Linked DNA regions of Homo sapiens. The protein of the gene in region 2 purifies or fractionates together with the protein of the main gene of each other region. This does not show direct contact. Each region holds a gene or a part of one and is shown on either strand. Other genes may lie near its edges.

The links.
Region 1: the proteins of SLC14A1 (region 2) and ATP11C purify together in Homo sapiens (affinity purification with mass spectrometry; 2 studies listed by BioGRID and IntAct, with this or other methods). This does not show direct contact.

What each region holds. Positions count from the first base shown.
Region 1 is NC_000023.11:139,796,861-139,804,202, forward strand, and holds part of ATP11C (phospholipid-transporting ATPase IG), read right to left. Parts: intron 5,480-7,342; coding exon 5,376-5,479; intron 3,251-5,375; coding exon 3,200-3,250; intron 1,884-3,199; coding exon 1,819-1,883; intron 1,495-1,818; coding exon 1,413-1,494; intron 467-1,412; coding exon 316-466; intron 1-315. UniProt on the Homo sapiens protein: Catalytic component of a P4-ATPase flippase complex which catalyzes the hydrolysis of ATP coupled to the transport of aminophospholipids, phosphatidylserines (PS) and phosphatidylethanolamines (PE), from the outer to the inner leaflet of the plasma membrane.
Region 2 is NC_000018.10:45,719,023-45,727,192, reverse strand, and holds the start of SLC14A1 (urea transporter 1), read right to left. Parts: upstream 3,013-8,170; 5' UTR 2,920-3,012; intron 2,244-2,919; 5' UTR 2,180-2,243; intron 241-2,179; exon of another isoform or gene 1-240. UniProt on the Homo sapiens protein: Mediates the transport of urea driven by a concentration gradient across the cell membrane of erythrocytes.

The DNA of each region.
Region 1 (7,342 bases), on a different chromosome or scaffold from region 2:
TCACCTTAAATTCTTATATAAAGAGCTAAAAACAAGCATAGATGCCTAAAGTAAAAGAAAAAAAACTCTTTTTTTCTTTTCTTTTTCTTTCTTTTACAATAAAGAAAATAAAAGTTTTTTTTACAAAAAAAACTTTGTTTTTCTTTTTCTTTCTTTTACAATAAATCTTCTTAAATATTTATTGGCTTAGAGCCACCATGTAATCGAGAGAAAATTCAGAAGCTAACAAAAGGTGCCGTTTCCCTGAGCAGCATTTCAGTGAAGGTTGGCTCAGTCACAAAAAATAGTTTCAATTTTCAGCAGAAAACAAATTACCTTCAAGGTCTCTCGCTCTTTCTGAGTCTTTTGGTTATACCAAGGTTCATCATTGTATGGGGTACTTTGCCAAACATACTTTAGAGTAGTGCATACTGCAGCTTTGGTCAGTAAGATAAATAAATATACAATCAGGAAAGCATTAATAGATCTGAAAAATAAGATAGCATGGATTTTAAAACCAAAGACATCAGTCAGATATGAATTAAACTACTGAGTCATCTAAAGCTTTTTCTGTGTACGACGCGTAACTACAGCACAAGCCTTTGTGTATTAACCTCAGTTATCATAGCTGCAGCATTACTTTCAAGTGGCAAAATGGAAAAGCTGGCCATGAACTGTTTATTGACCACCAATGCTCCCCCAAGTGCAATGGCTGACTAGCTGAACACACCTTATTAAGGTTCCTGTAAAGTGACAGGAGAGGTACACACATGCACACATACACACACCATTACTTACTCAACCCTTATAGAAAGAGTATCTTGTCTCCATTTCCCTGAATCCTAAATGTTTGGGGTAGAGGGCACGGTAGCAATGTGAAATCCTCAAGCTCGGTGTAGGTTCTTTCAGTTTAAAAGTGGAGCTATGGAAAGGGTGCCAGTGATATACTGGTTATCCATGCCAAATACAGGGTGAGGTCTATAGCAGTGGCAACTGGCTTGAGGATCTACGAGGCACTGCTTCAATAGGTGCCAGGAGACTATTATCTATATTATAGAACCAACTTGCATATAGCAACTAAAGGACTCCAAACCATTAACTCCACTAGCAAAAAGGAATGAATTTACAGTTCAAGTAAACTCTGCCCTTTAATAGCTATGTGAGCTTAGGTAAGTCACATACCATCTCCAAGACCATTTCCTCATCTGTAAAGTGGAGAGGTTAACATGAATTACTTCACAGTGTTCTTCAGAGGACTAAACCAAATCAGACATACAAATCATTGAGCACAGTTTCTGGTACATAAACAAGTGCTTAAAATTGTAGTTGCTATTATAATTGATGTTGTTTTTTGTTATGCTTGTTACTTGGAATTACCAAGAAAGTAACTATTTTAATCAATAATGACTAAATAAATTGTGGCGCATACTAACTTTTCAACAGCAGAACGTTTCTGAGATTTCCCTTGGTAGTTCAAAGCCATTTTGGTTTCCATTCCAGTGTAAACAGCAACTCCTAAGAAATTACAGAATATAATAAAAACTAAGAACTTGTCAACCAACTCCTCACCCAGCTGGCTCTATGAATTTTTAAGTCTATAAAAGTGGGAAATCTAGGCCCTCTTCCACTCACCAGTTGTATATCATTTATAGGATAATTTTAATTATATATAGTATTTGTCATATTTCGTCTTAGTTTACCACGTTATAAATTCCCAACACCTAAATGTAGGTTTAAATTAAATGGCAAACCTGCCATGTTTACTTTTTAATATGCACTATTTATTCACAGCCTTTACAAAGCATATTTTTTGATAGGTGTATCTTAAAAATTGTTCACCATATATCTTCTCGGTATTTTTTAGCGTAGCTCCTTTCAGCAAGAGATTTTCAGGTCCCAAAGACCTAAATAAAAAATGAACACAGCTTATCCAAACAAGCCAATAGCATCAACAACTCTGGGGACAGATTTTGCCCTGACACACACCTATCTCCAAGGGGTTCAGAATGTTATCTGTCTACTTATACCATATGCTTACTCCCCAGGACAAGCTGAAAGGTCCTTCACTCTGAAGTTACTTGAGGGTACAGCACAGATGGAAGCACAGTACGGGAGTAGCCAGCAACACACATAGGCAAAAAAAATACATGGGGGGGGATAAAAGGATTATGAATCATGGATAGCAAGACGAGAACAGAACAGAGCAGCAGATCGCAAGACACAAAAGCAGACAGCCATCAATAAAAGACAGGGAATGCAAACGTCAAGGTGGGAAAAATATACTGACATATTTGGAGAGAATAAACCCTCCTTTTGGGGGATCACTGGGGACCCTGTATTTCTTTAACTTTTTGAGTGTGGCTGTAAAGGCCAAGTGGAAAAGTTGCGGTAATTAATATGATGATAGAAGAGGAAAGAAAGCATCCCTTTTTGTATGAACTGCTTGATAAATTGTATGAAGGCTGATACATACAATTCGTATACATAAAACAATTCGTTTTAATGAAGCCTTTCATTTTACGTAAGTCCAGGTAGTTCTTCCAGCATTTTACCCACTGCTTACTTTCTCAATTACTCTCCCACTGTTCTCCAGTTATAATTCCAATGTTGTCAGCCACTTCACAACCGAGGATAATAAATAACATGGCTAGAACAGGTTTGGGAATATAATCCAAAATGTCTGGAGCTCTGCTATTTTGGAAACCATAAGCATTACTTCTAACAGCCCCCTCCCCACAACACAGAGACCCTATCACCACAACTCTACCAATCACAAGGTTAGTTGCTTATTCACCTTTATATTCCTTTTTTTTTTTTTTTTTTTTTTTTTGAGATGGAGTCTTGCTCTTGTTGCCCAGGGTACAGTGCAATGGCTCAATCTTGGCTCACTGCGACCTTCGCCTCCCGGGTTCAAGAGATTCTCCTGCCTCAGCCTCCTGAGTAGTTGGGATTACAGATGTGTGCCACCACGCCCAGCTAAATTTGTATTTTTAATAGAGATTGGGTTTCACCCCGTTGGCCAGGCTGGCTTCAAACTCCTGACCTCAGGTGATCCACCCACCTCAGCCTCCCAAAGTGCTGGGATTACAGGCGTGAGCTACCGCACCCGGCCTATATTCCTTTCTATAATAGAAAGGTATTTGGCTATTTTAGTTGATTTAACAGAAAAATAGACCCCCCCCCCCAACCAAAGGACAAATTAAAGAAACAGCAAACTTACCTGGCAACAGCCTCAAGACTATTACTGTAGATATTGATTCGCCCAACAAATCTGTAAAAAGAACAAAATTGCAAATGTGTTTTCTACATCCAGGTGAAATCCATGTACCAGAAATATGAGAATGAATGAAAATACAAATAATAAAACAGAGATAGATAAAACTGTGAATGAACTACAAAAGCCTATTATATTTCTGGGGGAAAAAAAGTTATGTTGAATTGATAAGGTGTATAACATTTTCATATAATTTTTAAATAACATGATGGGATTATAGGAGCAGAAACAAAGGTTCTCAATTGATTTTCAAGTTCTGTTTAACATCATGCATGCACACAACACCTCTCTCTTTTATAAGTTTATATAAATAACGTAACTTCTATCTTGGATCATGTGAAGAAAGGTTTCTGGTGCTAAAATACAATTTTCAAAACCGCTAGTTCAGTAGTTCTTACACTTGAGTGTGCATCAGAATCACTGGAGCGCTAATTAAACCACAGATTTCTAGGTCCCATCCCTGAGCTTCTGATTCAGGTTCCCCAGTAATGCTGCTGCTGCTGGTCCTGAAACCACTCTTTAAACCATAGTACTAGTCTTAGACAGTGAACACTTGAATGCCATCTTGGAAATGTCCAGCCTGTGACTTGTAGTTGATCTCAATACTGAGCTTGACCCAATCACTTAATATAATAGGTGTATGGTAACCTGTATTTCTGCAAAATAAGGTAAAAATACCTAATCCCTCGTTAACATCAGTGTTTTATAATCTGCATCGTAAACAGCATTTTCCCCAGAAAATAGAAATATATATTACTCATATACACAAAATATGAAGGCTTGCTCATTCATTCATCATATATTAATTGTGCCAGTGCTATACTAAGTGCTGAAGATGTACTAATAAGCAAAAAAGAAATGGCTCCTTGCCCTATAAAAGTAAATAGGCAATTACGACGCAAGTGCTTACCACTAGAGTGATAGAAGTACAAGGTATTCCGAAGTCACACAGCAAGGAATTCAATCGTCTAAGGAAATAAGGAATAACCTTCCCTGTCCTATCATTCTCCTTCATACTTAAAGCAACTGAAAAATGTGGGGATTTCCCTATAAATATGCAAGGGTATAGATATTGTTCTCTAGCTCAGGCAGAATAAGTTACTCCCTTTTCTGTGATTCCATAGACCTTACACTCACCTCTATTATCACCTTGTATAAGCTTAGCTTTATTACTTCATCTCTTGCTCACAGTGAGTCCCTTGAAGGTAGAGAATAACTGTTACACTTTTTGGCCCTAGTTCCTATCATCAAGGTGGATACGGAAGAGGAAGGGAAAGAGGAAAGAAAAAGTGATGAGAAGGAGGGAGGTCATTGTTCTTGAAGTAGAATGAATACTTTGTTTTTCCACTACTAGGTGTTAGTGTAAACCACATCCAACCACTTGGTCACTCATTATGACTAACAGCATGCATTAACAAGATGGGTAATGGATGCCATCTGCAACGGTAGAATAGGATAAAATTAATTAGCCCACGTGGGGATAAAACCTGTTACACTACCCTGATTAGTACTATGCTCTAATCAACCCAACTAACCAGTCTTGAAATCAAACGCCAATTTTTGACAACCCACAATGACTAATAATCAGCAAACCTACTCCAGAGAGCCTAAGTATAGTAAAATAGAGGAAATTACACCATTGTACTCATCCCTTAACTGTTTACTGTGGACAAGAAAGAGCCTATTTGCAATCTTTAGTGCATCATGATCATTCTAAGAAAGGATAGAACCTACTAATTGCATGAAGAGGATATCCCCCTTCTCTCTTTAATGTTAGATGGCATGTAAAAGGATTTGTTTTTTATTTAATTAACTGGTTACTGCATCAGTCTGATAGATCAGCCTTACAGGGTAACATAATCTAAAATTTTGATATATGGCCATGTTTACAAGTAATAAAAATAAAAGAAAAATCATAAGATACCTGGGCCCACAATGATTTATTCTGGGTTGATAGTGAACAAGGCTGATTTGATTCATTTTTCTGCCAGAAGGAAGGAATCGCCCATAAAAACACAAATGAGAGTAGGCTGGTAAGTGGTGGGTGTTTCTTTTGCAATACTATTAGCAAAGAGAAGCAGAGCCAACAAACAGAAGTAAAATGAAACCAGGTGATTCTTACTTGTAGAGGTCAGGTTGAGGCTGTTCACATTCAATTGCTGCTCGGAGGGTATCGATGGATTCTGCTGTACACAGTGCAATGGTATCACGTACTGCATAATGTGTCTAGTTGAAAGCAGAAGAAAAAGTGAAAACCAAAAAAACTTTCTTTTCATAATCATACACCCAACTGATTTCAGAAACAAATTTAGTTTATGTTTTAGTAAGAGGCTTTGGCAGAATAAACAAATATTAACATTTCCCACTAATAAGTTTTATGGTATTATTATGAAAATATATTACAAATAATTAGAAAGATAACCTGCCGCAAGGAGGGTTTCAAAGACAATTAAAAACCTAAAAGCTCTTCTTGACATGGACAGCTGAGAGAATTCTATTCACAACATGCATATAATTAACTAAAACCACGTGAAAAAGTTAATACATTTATTTTTTTTCCTATTTACAGAACTGAGACTTATTATTTTGCTCACTATAGTGTATGGCAATGGAGATATACACATATGAATTGAACATAACCTTTTTGGTCACAAAAATGCTAAAATTTTGCCAACAGCAAGAAAAAAATCATTAATAGTTCCATTACACAAATAGCTTAATTAATGATCTTGAAAATGTTCAATATGGATACATTTTGTACAAGGGGCAGGGAGATGACGTGTCTTGCATTAGTCAGATAATTAGAATATTCTACTAGTGTATATTATGCACTTGATTCATCCAGAACTCAAGGCAGGCGCCAATGAACCCACTTATAAATCATCAAACAAGGGTTAAAGCAGACTCAAAGAGCGCACCACTTAGGCAGAAGGGAAAGCTGTTGTCGTCATCTTGGGGGAAATATTACGGCAATGTCTGAACTATATTTAAAACTATCTCCTGATTTTGAAAACCTCTGTACTTTTAGCTGATTTGATCAGAACAACTTAACTGAAAAAAGAAACTATCTGAAAGTTTTCTTACTCCAAACAACTTTTTCACTATCAGGAAATCTTTATGTAGATTTCTTGATTTATATCTTGACATTCCCTAAATTATAACTTTGTTTTTGAAAAGGTTAAAAGCAGGTCATTACCATGCTTTTGAAATACAGAATTAGTCATCCAACAGGTAAAGGTTCTTTTTTACATACTGAGTCGTAGTCCTCAACTCCAGATGGAATAAACAAACAGAGGAGCCCTCCAAGGACATACCCAGAGGTGAGCCACATGAGTAACCCTCCTTAAAGGCAGCATAGAGAGGATACATCTTCATGCCCTGTGGAGCTCTGGACCATGGCCAAGAAAACCGACTGTGCCAGAAAGTGTATGAGGGAAATAAGTTACCCCCATTTGGCCAAATTTACTTTAAGTCACTTGCAATTATAAATGAGTTATAATTTGTTATATGTACATAAAATGTTGCTTTATAACTTACTTATAAAGCAAACATTTTCCAAACTACACCCTATCTTTTTTTTTTTTTTTTTTTTTTTTTTTTTTTGAGATGGAGACTCACCCTGTCACCTAGGCTGGAGTGCAGTGGCGTGATCTTGGCTCACTGCAACCTCCATCTCCCGGGCTCAAGCAATTCTATTGCCTCAGCCTCCCGAGTAGCTGGAATTACAGGCGCCCACCACTATGCCCGGCTAATTTTTTTGTATTTTTAGTAGAGACAGGGTTTCACCATGTTGGCCAGGCTGGTTTCGAACTGCTGAACTCAAATGATCCGTCTACCTCAGCCTCCCAAAGTGCTAGGATTACAGGCGTGAGCCACCGCACCCAGCCCTAAGTATTATTTTTAAATAGCAATCAAATTACTCCAGGTTGGGTTTCCTACATCCCAAGAATATACATTTTTAATGAAAATATACATTTTAGAAAAAAATAGATCAAATTGTAAGGTTAGCATACATGAAGTTATTTGTATAGTCACACAGTTTAAGCCTATGATTACTCCCATTTTAGAGTCTAAATATTAAATAGGCTG
Region 2 (8,170 bases):
CAAAAGGCAAGCTGAGGGGGGCTGGAGCGCGCCCACTGGGTTCCTGGTGAGGGAAGATGTGGCCCCACATGGGAGACCGCTAATGAAGAAGGAGGACTTTGCCTTCACCAAAGAGCTCTCAGTGGGCAGAAAGACAGCAGCTGACTATGGAAATTTGATGTTCATTTACTTTGCTTAAAAAAAAAATAACGGGAAGCCATCCTACACAGGGACCAATGCCCAGATTTTGTTCTGCTGCGTGTCTCTGCTGTTGGATCTGAGGTTGCTTCTTCCAGAGGGGGAGGAGGGGGTTCATGTTCTGACACGTTTGGGGGCAGATTGTGAGGGCTGCATCTTGGGGACCAACACCAAAGCAACAGGTTGCCCCACAGCAGTTTCCCTTGGCCTTGTTTATGAAATGTGAGAAGAAGGATGCATGATGTGGGCTCTGTTTTCTGTAATAAGATACTAGCCACGCTTTGTAAGCATTCACAAGCTGCCTTTAAGAGACTCCTAAATGGTATTTTTTTTTCCTGTGCCACCACATCCAGCTGTGTTTATTTTAATTTATTTTATTTTTTTTTAGAGACAAAGTCTCATTGTATTGTCCAGGCTGGTTTTGAATTCCTGGCCTCAAGTGATCCTCCCACCTTAGCCTCCCAAAACACTGGGATTACAGGCATAAGTCATCATGCCAGGCCAAGAACTCTTAAATTTTGAACATCACTTTGTTAATAATAAACAGTTTTTAGTTGAATTCCACAAATGTGGCAGCTTTTTATAAATTTTCTTTTTCCTTTTTAAAACTTCCATTGCATCCAAGAATATCACTCTTTTACCAGAAGTTCCAGTTGTGTGTGTGGTATTTCTCTTTTTCTCCCCCTGTTGTTTATTCTGTTTTTACTTTCTTCTTCTGGCTTGGCCTAAAACCTGAAAACCTACCCTTTACCAGAATGACTCAGAAAAATCCACAATTTTAGGAAACACTTCTGACATGTCTCAGGTAAAAATTGTGTGTGTGCATGCATGTGTGTATATTTACCTATAGTAAACTAGCTGGCTAGTTCTGTACCACACTGATGTGCCTGCATGTTGCATTATGAATATTTTTATTTGATAAAGAACAAATGGTTAAGAAACCCAGTGGTAGGGCTCTCATGTTATATAAAGCTAAAAACAAAGAAATAAGAAACAATGAAGAATGAAAAAAGAGACAAGCAGGGGTTGTCACATTTTCTCAGTGTAGACAGCGTCTCCTTCTGCCCCTGCCTGGCACCGGCCTTTCCTCTACCACCAAAATCACACACCTTGGAGAACCCCTTCCTTGAGCTCAACATCAATATTTTCCTAGAACCAAGAGAAATTTGAGAGCTAGGTAGGATTTTAGAGACCACGTAGTTCAAGCCTTCATTTTATAGAAGAGAAAACCAAGGATCAGAGTGGGCATCATCCAGATTCACTCAGTACGTGGCAGGCAGACTGGGTCTTATGGAATAGGTCAGCTCTGGTGGTTCTTAATTTTTCAGTCTTGGGCCAGGCACATTAATGCCACCCAAGGTTCGGTTCAAGTCAACAAACAAGTGAAGCAGCAGTTTCTGTGTGCTGGAGTATGCAGAGAGGGCTAGGACTTAGCGATGCGGTGGGCACAGACTATCTTCACGGTCACTTTGAACTAATCTTGGGGTGGGGGTTGAACAACCACAAAGAAAGAGCTCTGCTATCCCCAGTTTCACCCTATGCCCTTGCCAGAAGCAGTTACTCTCTGACAAACAAATGTCTCCCTGTGCCTCAAAGCTGACACATCTACAGCAAGGCTTATGTGTGCTGAAGTTAACATCCCAAGAATATCCTGGAAGCTGCACCTGAAGAGCTTTCCAGCAGAAGTCAAAAAGCACTTTTCATACCCCAGATCACTAGTAAAATGAAGCAGTGCTTAGCATTTTAATACAAGGCAATATCAAGATTTCAGGTCAACTAATATCCTCTATTTTATTACACGAAATAAAATATATTCTATTGCCAGCATGTATTAGAAATTTGTGCAATTGGAGAGACCTGAAGTCTTCAATTTTCCATGCTTCAGCTATTACTTTTAAAAATAATATGAAGTGTTGGATATGGATATAGAAGAAAGCATTTAAACACTCATGGTCTAGCATAATAAAGAGACTTTCAGCATTGACACTTATTTGGTACTTACTATAATCTTTATTTTAGGTAGTTTTTGATTTTAAGTAGCAGGAGATGCCCAGTTTTCTTTAAAGCTGTAATTGGAAACAAAGAAAATGCTGTCAGATATTCCTGTGTCCTGGTTAAAACACTTCCCTCCTTGGAAAACACTACTCCCAGAAGTCTTGATTCCAGACTCCAGAGAGTGCAGCTGCAAGGAAGCTGCCAAATTCGTGGCTTCAGTTGTGACTGACTTGTTCTCCCGATGGGTGCACAAGAACATTCCCTTCAGCATGACAGCACACACAGAGGAGTCCATAAATCCATCACTGGAAAGGGCCATTCCCAGTGGCCCACTTTTTTCTTTTGAGTCTTGTAGACACTCGCCTCGAACTTATTTCAAGAACACAGCCCAAATTATTATTTCAAGAACACAACCTGAAACTCCTAATAGTGTTGATTAACCCAGAATCATTGAGCACATTGGGTGGACACCTCCCTGCAAACCCTCTTCCACATCAGCTCAGGTGCTGCATGCACCTTGCTTCAGAAATCACGAATAAAGGCATGCCTTTGAGCTTCCAGGAAGAAGCCTGTGGCTTTGGTAAATTGCTTTCTAGTCTACCAGAACTCTGATTTTGCTACTTCTGATCAATTCCGGTGATATAAAACATTTTCTTCATTAAGAAAAAGAGCAAAACTTAGAACTGTGAAGACAAGCCCCAAATGATGAATAGTTGGAAATGAATAGAAATAAGGATGAGTACTTACACCACTCTAGCTGGCTTCCTGGCAGCAGAAGGCAGTGGCTGATAAAGATTTGCCCACCTCCACGACAAGGGAGAGTGCTTCTCAGGAGATGGTGCTGGAGGGAGGCACCTAACAGTTATATACTCAGAGCCCCACTCTGCTCTGTGTGTTTGTGGGCTCGGCTTTCTCCTCCCACTTCAGGCATCAATGCCAAAGCAACACCAAGGAACTGGTCCCCTGGCTTCAGTACCCGATGTCTCTCTCTCTGTTCTTGACAGAGTACCAACTGCTTTGCCACAGTTTCCACAGCATTCCAAGGTCTTTGACCAGCAATAATCCTACCAAAATGCATCTTTTTCTTCTCCTGTTTCCTCTGGCCCCTACTCATATTTTTGGAAAGATTTACAACTGAAAAGGATCAACACGGTGTCAAACTAAAAACCATGGGGCAGGTTGCTGCTGTGTGGACTCGGAAGCTAAGCGACTGCTCCTGGGGTGAAATTTTCTTAGACTTGGCACAACTTCTACACAGATGTAAGACTCCAGCAAGGGCCTGAGGGGCTGTTGGGAGGGTGGGGAAGATAAGGTACATGCAAGTTGTTTTCTGAAGGCCAGCTGCCTTTTTCCCAGTGAGGAGAAAACAAAAATATCAGTGTTTCCCTGGAATGTCTGTCTTCCCAGGTGAGAATTCTTGGACATACTCTGCTGCCTCTTTAAAAGTCAGGAAGCAAACATTCTATAGCAGGGAAATCTAAAACTGAATTAAAATATCTCCTCCTTCCCCCTTCTTTTTAAATTTCAATTTTGTGGCTTGTTCTGTTATGGCAAAAATCTAACTCAAATCTACTTTTATGAGTGCAGAATTTTAAAAAAATATATGTGTATATATGTATATGTGTGTATATATGTAACATATATACATCTATATTACATACATACATGTATATATGTAGATATATACATATAATAAATATACATATATACATATATTACATATGTGTAGATATATATGTGTGTATATATGTAATATATATACATATATACATATACTTTTAAATATATATATAATATATATATGTAATCCCACAGCCAGCCATGCAGATGTCATAGGTCTTTTATCTGGGTCTCCTGCCTGCTTGGATGTGCAGATAGTACTTATCAGCCTTCAGCTAGGTGGCCCATGGCTGGGAGCTCTCTGGCTCCACCCGCTGGACACCCGCCAGACCACAGGGTTCTTGCCGGCTTGGGACATCCTTCCTCCAAGTGCCTCCCGAGCAGCTGAGGTAGGGTGTGTATAGGTCTAGGTTCATAATAAGAGTTTCCAGGTTCAGGCAAATCTCCTTCCAACATTTTTTCCCTGGTAAAATAAGGAGAAAATAAGCTCCTCGGGTTTCCCTGAAGGAGAAAAATGAATCTTCAGGAGACAGTGTGAGTGGCCTGCTTTGGGAATGAAAGGAATCATACTAGTGTCTCCATGACTTCCTTATGCAAATGGACCACTGTCCCTGATAGAAATAATCATGCTAATGATGGTAATGAGAATAATAACTGCCACAAATGGTAGAGCATTTGCAAAATTCCTATATTATACTATTGTCCCCATTTTGTAGATGAGCAATCTGAGGCTCAGAGTTTAAATAACTTGCTCAAAGTCTGACTCAAAGTTTGTACTTTTAGCCACTCCAGTGCTGTCCAATATTTCCAACTTCTGCCTGTATGTTTGCTTTTCATTAATTCCTTCACTCAACTTGGCCATGATGCATATTTATGGACCTCATCCTGAAGCTGCCTCCACATGACACCCATGGAGCCTTCTGCCTCAGTCGCACTGGTCAGGGCTGAAGGTGTGTAGTGAATCTCAGACCTCCTTGGAAAAACCACCTCTTTCTGTACCCACCCTCCCTCCCTGGCCTTTCTCCTGGTCCCTGTAAAGCCACACCTTAAGTGGGGGGCCACAAATTACAGCCTTGCCATATTGTATGCACAAGGCAGCACAAGGCACATGGAATTCCAAGTCAGATAAACCTGAGTTTGAATACTAGCTTTTCTCTGACAAGCTGTATGACCTTAGGCATGTTACTCACAGTTTCTGAGCCTCAGATTCCTCAGTGTAAAGTGGGGTAACTTTTCTTCCTTTATAAAGTTGTGATGAGGGATGACATCTTCAAAGCACCGTGCCGAACATGTAGAGGTGCCCCCATTCTGATGTCAGCCCCTCTCAATCAGCACTGGTTTACCTTGGGGGTTTCCAAATGGAACCTTCCTCCTGGCTTGAATAAGGGGACAAACTTCTCCCTGCTTTGACATCAGAAGGGGTGCAGTTATGAGTACAGAGGAAACCATTTGCTTCATTCAAGAACTGTGAACTAGGTAGCTTTCTGATGCAGGGCTTGCCAAATTCTCATACTGCAGGATTCTGAGATGCCAGGGTCCGCTGCCACCCTGTTGCTGTAGACAACTGGGCACTCATTGCGTGCATACATGTGTTCTCGGTGCTTTTAACAGCCTAATTGCACAATACAATGAACTTTTCTCTGTTCTTTCTACAGTAGCTCCTTTATTATTTCCAGAGAGTCATTTGCTGAGTATGCCCTAACATTGCCTTTCCTTGGTCTTTCCCTTGCATCTCCTCTTTGGGTGCCCCTCTCTGTTCCCATACCAAGTGAATGCACCTTCCATCTCTCTGCCTGGAACAATCACAAATGAACCTACATAAAGCTGCTCTCCTCTTCGACTTTCTTCTTGGAGTTTCTGCCCCTAGAATGTTTTCTCTCTCCTCCCCCTCCTCATACTCTGCCCAAATCTATTTGGATTTCGCAGTGGGCTTCTGTGCACTTAAAGCAGTTTACATCTCTATTCCTCACTGGCCATGAAATCATGCCGCCTAGCTCTGCAACAGTTCTGGTACTGTCTTATTTTTTAGAATATATCTTACGATGCACAGTCCCATCTGGGCCGGAAGGTACCGGATGATGAAGTCAGGATCCAATAGCTCTCTCCATTCCTAATGGACCTCTCTTTCCAGAAAGATTTTGAGGCAGTTCATCAAATATACGTAAGAGGACATAAGAACTAGGTGACAAAATGGAGAAAGGAGAATGCAACTATGGATAAAACACAATTTTCATATTTTTTCTACAATACCTTGCATTTGTTGGTATTTCTAAATTTGTGTTGTTTTAATCAGAAATTATAACACTGTTTCATTTGATTGCTGCTTGATATTGATCTACGCATAGGCAGTTTAATGTTATAAATAATTGGCACCTCAAGATTATGTAATTGGGCAGTGCCCTCACTGAGGACTTCTACAAGACATTCTCATGCTTTTCTGTCCCCTCACCCCCCCACGAAGAGAGTGGCAAGGACTGCAAGTCTGGAACAGAATGTTCCTTTGCAGTGAGTTCTGAGCCTACTGAGTTCTTTGGTTTGGTAAACAGTCAGATAAAAAGGTACCAGACGAGAGCCAAAACTCCCAGAACGACACTTGGAGGGGACCCTTTGATGTAGGCATTCCCTAGAGTGAAGCCAAGGATCAAGGCAGCGCAGAGAGTGCAAAAGTCTCACTCAAACCTCCACTGCCTGCCCTTGCTGGGGGAACACAATGACGGGTGATGAAAGGAGGCACTGAGGTCCCTAAGTTTTTAGCTCCCCTTAAATGCAGTCCTGAAATTATTCCATCCATTTTAGGAGTAAACGGGGATCAATAGCTGGGAGCATCCAGAGATGATGTTCCTCCTGCACAAAGCAGAGGGTTCATGTAATCTCCATCCCTACCTACAACTTTCATCAGATGCCCATCTGTCACCTTTCCAGCTTTTAAATTAAAATCAGACCAGTGTAAGGCTCATAATGTAGTCTCTGGTGTCATGGGCCAATGCGTAAGGGTGTGCAGGTTGTGCACTGCACAAATGCACCACGTCTAAGGGGGTCACTATTAATGTCCTAGAAATTTGTGTGTTTATTGCAACAAAGTTCTTGAAGATGGTACTAAAATGTCTTGAGAAAAGGGGTGCTAGTGTGTCTGTGCAAGGAGCCATATTGTCTAGCAATACCTTGAGCTTTTAAAAATTTTCATTTTTATTTTTTTTGAACACCGAGAAGCCAGCTTTTGTTTCTTTTTCTTCTTCTTCTTCTTTTTTTTTTAGACAGAGTCTTGCTCTTTTGCCCAGGCTGGAGTGCAGTGGTGTGATCTCAGCTCACCGCAACCTCCACCTCCTGGGTTCAAGCGATTCTCCTGCTTCAGCCTCCTGAGTAGCTAAGATTACAGGCATGCACCACCATGCCCAGCTAATTTTGTATTTTTAGCAGAGACAGGGTTTCACCATGTTGGCCAGGCTGGTCTCAGACTCCTGACCTCAAGTGATCCATCTGCCTCAGCCTCCCAAAGTGCTGGGATTACAGGCATGAGCCACCACGCCTGGCAAGAAGAAAGGCTTCCCTGACCGGGAATCAAATCCGGGCCATGGTGGTGAGAGCGCCAAATCCCATCCACTACACCACCCGGGGCATCATCCTCCCTCCCAGGCTTGCGCCTTTTGTTTCTTCAAGATTAAAAGAAAAAATCATTTCCCAGTGAGGAACAATAGGGAAAGAGGTAGGAGGAGAATCATCTCAATCTCTTTAGGCTCAGATGAAAAGGAGAGTAAAGTGTTGGAAAAATGAGGGGTGGGGACTGGCATGGCCGCGTTTCCCTAGGCCCCTGCTAAGGATAAACCACATGCATCGGATTGTTCTCTTACTGTAAAAGATGAGGGGATGCTGGCCCCAAGGTTAGGAAGTTGAGCTCGATTTGATAATTGGGCCGGGAAGAGGAGGTGGGACGGCCTGGCATCACCATTGCGAATGGGGCTCGCTGGGCACCCAGATCGATCTGCTGTCTTTTTGTCTGAAGGTTTGCCAAACCAAAACATCCGTGGGCTCAGAACACACTGCAAAGGAATGTTGTATTCCAGACTTGCAGTCCTTGCCATGCTCTTTGTTGAGGGTGAGGGGACAGAGAAGCATGAGAATGTCTTATAGAATTCCTGAGTGTGGGTGCTGCCCAATTACATACTCTTGAGGTGAAAATTATGTGTAACATTAAACTGCCCATGCATAGATCAGGATCTGAGTTACTCACCAGGGGCCTGGCTGGGATGGGGCAGGTGTATTAAAGTGCGACTATTCTCTGGAGCTGGGGAGGTGGCAGCTGGCTCAGGCCCCTTCCTCATCATTTGTCTCAACTGGAGACTGAGTATCTGCCAGCTGCACAGTTTTGTTGCTCAGCCTG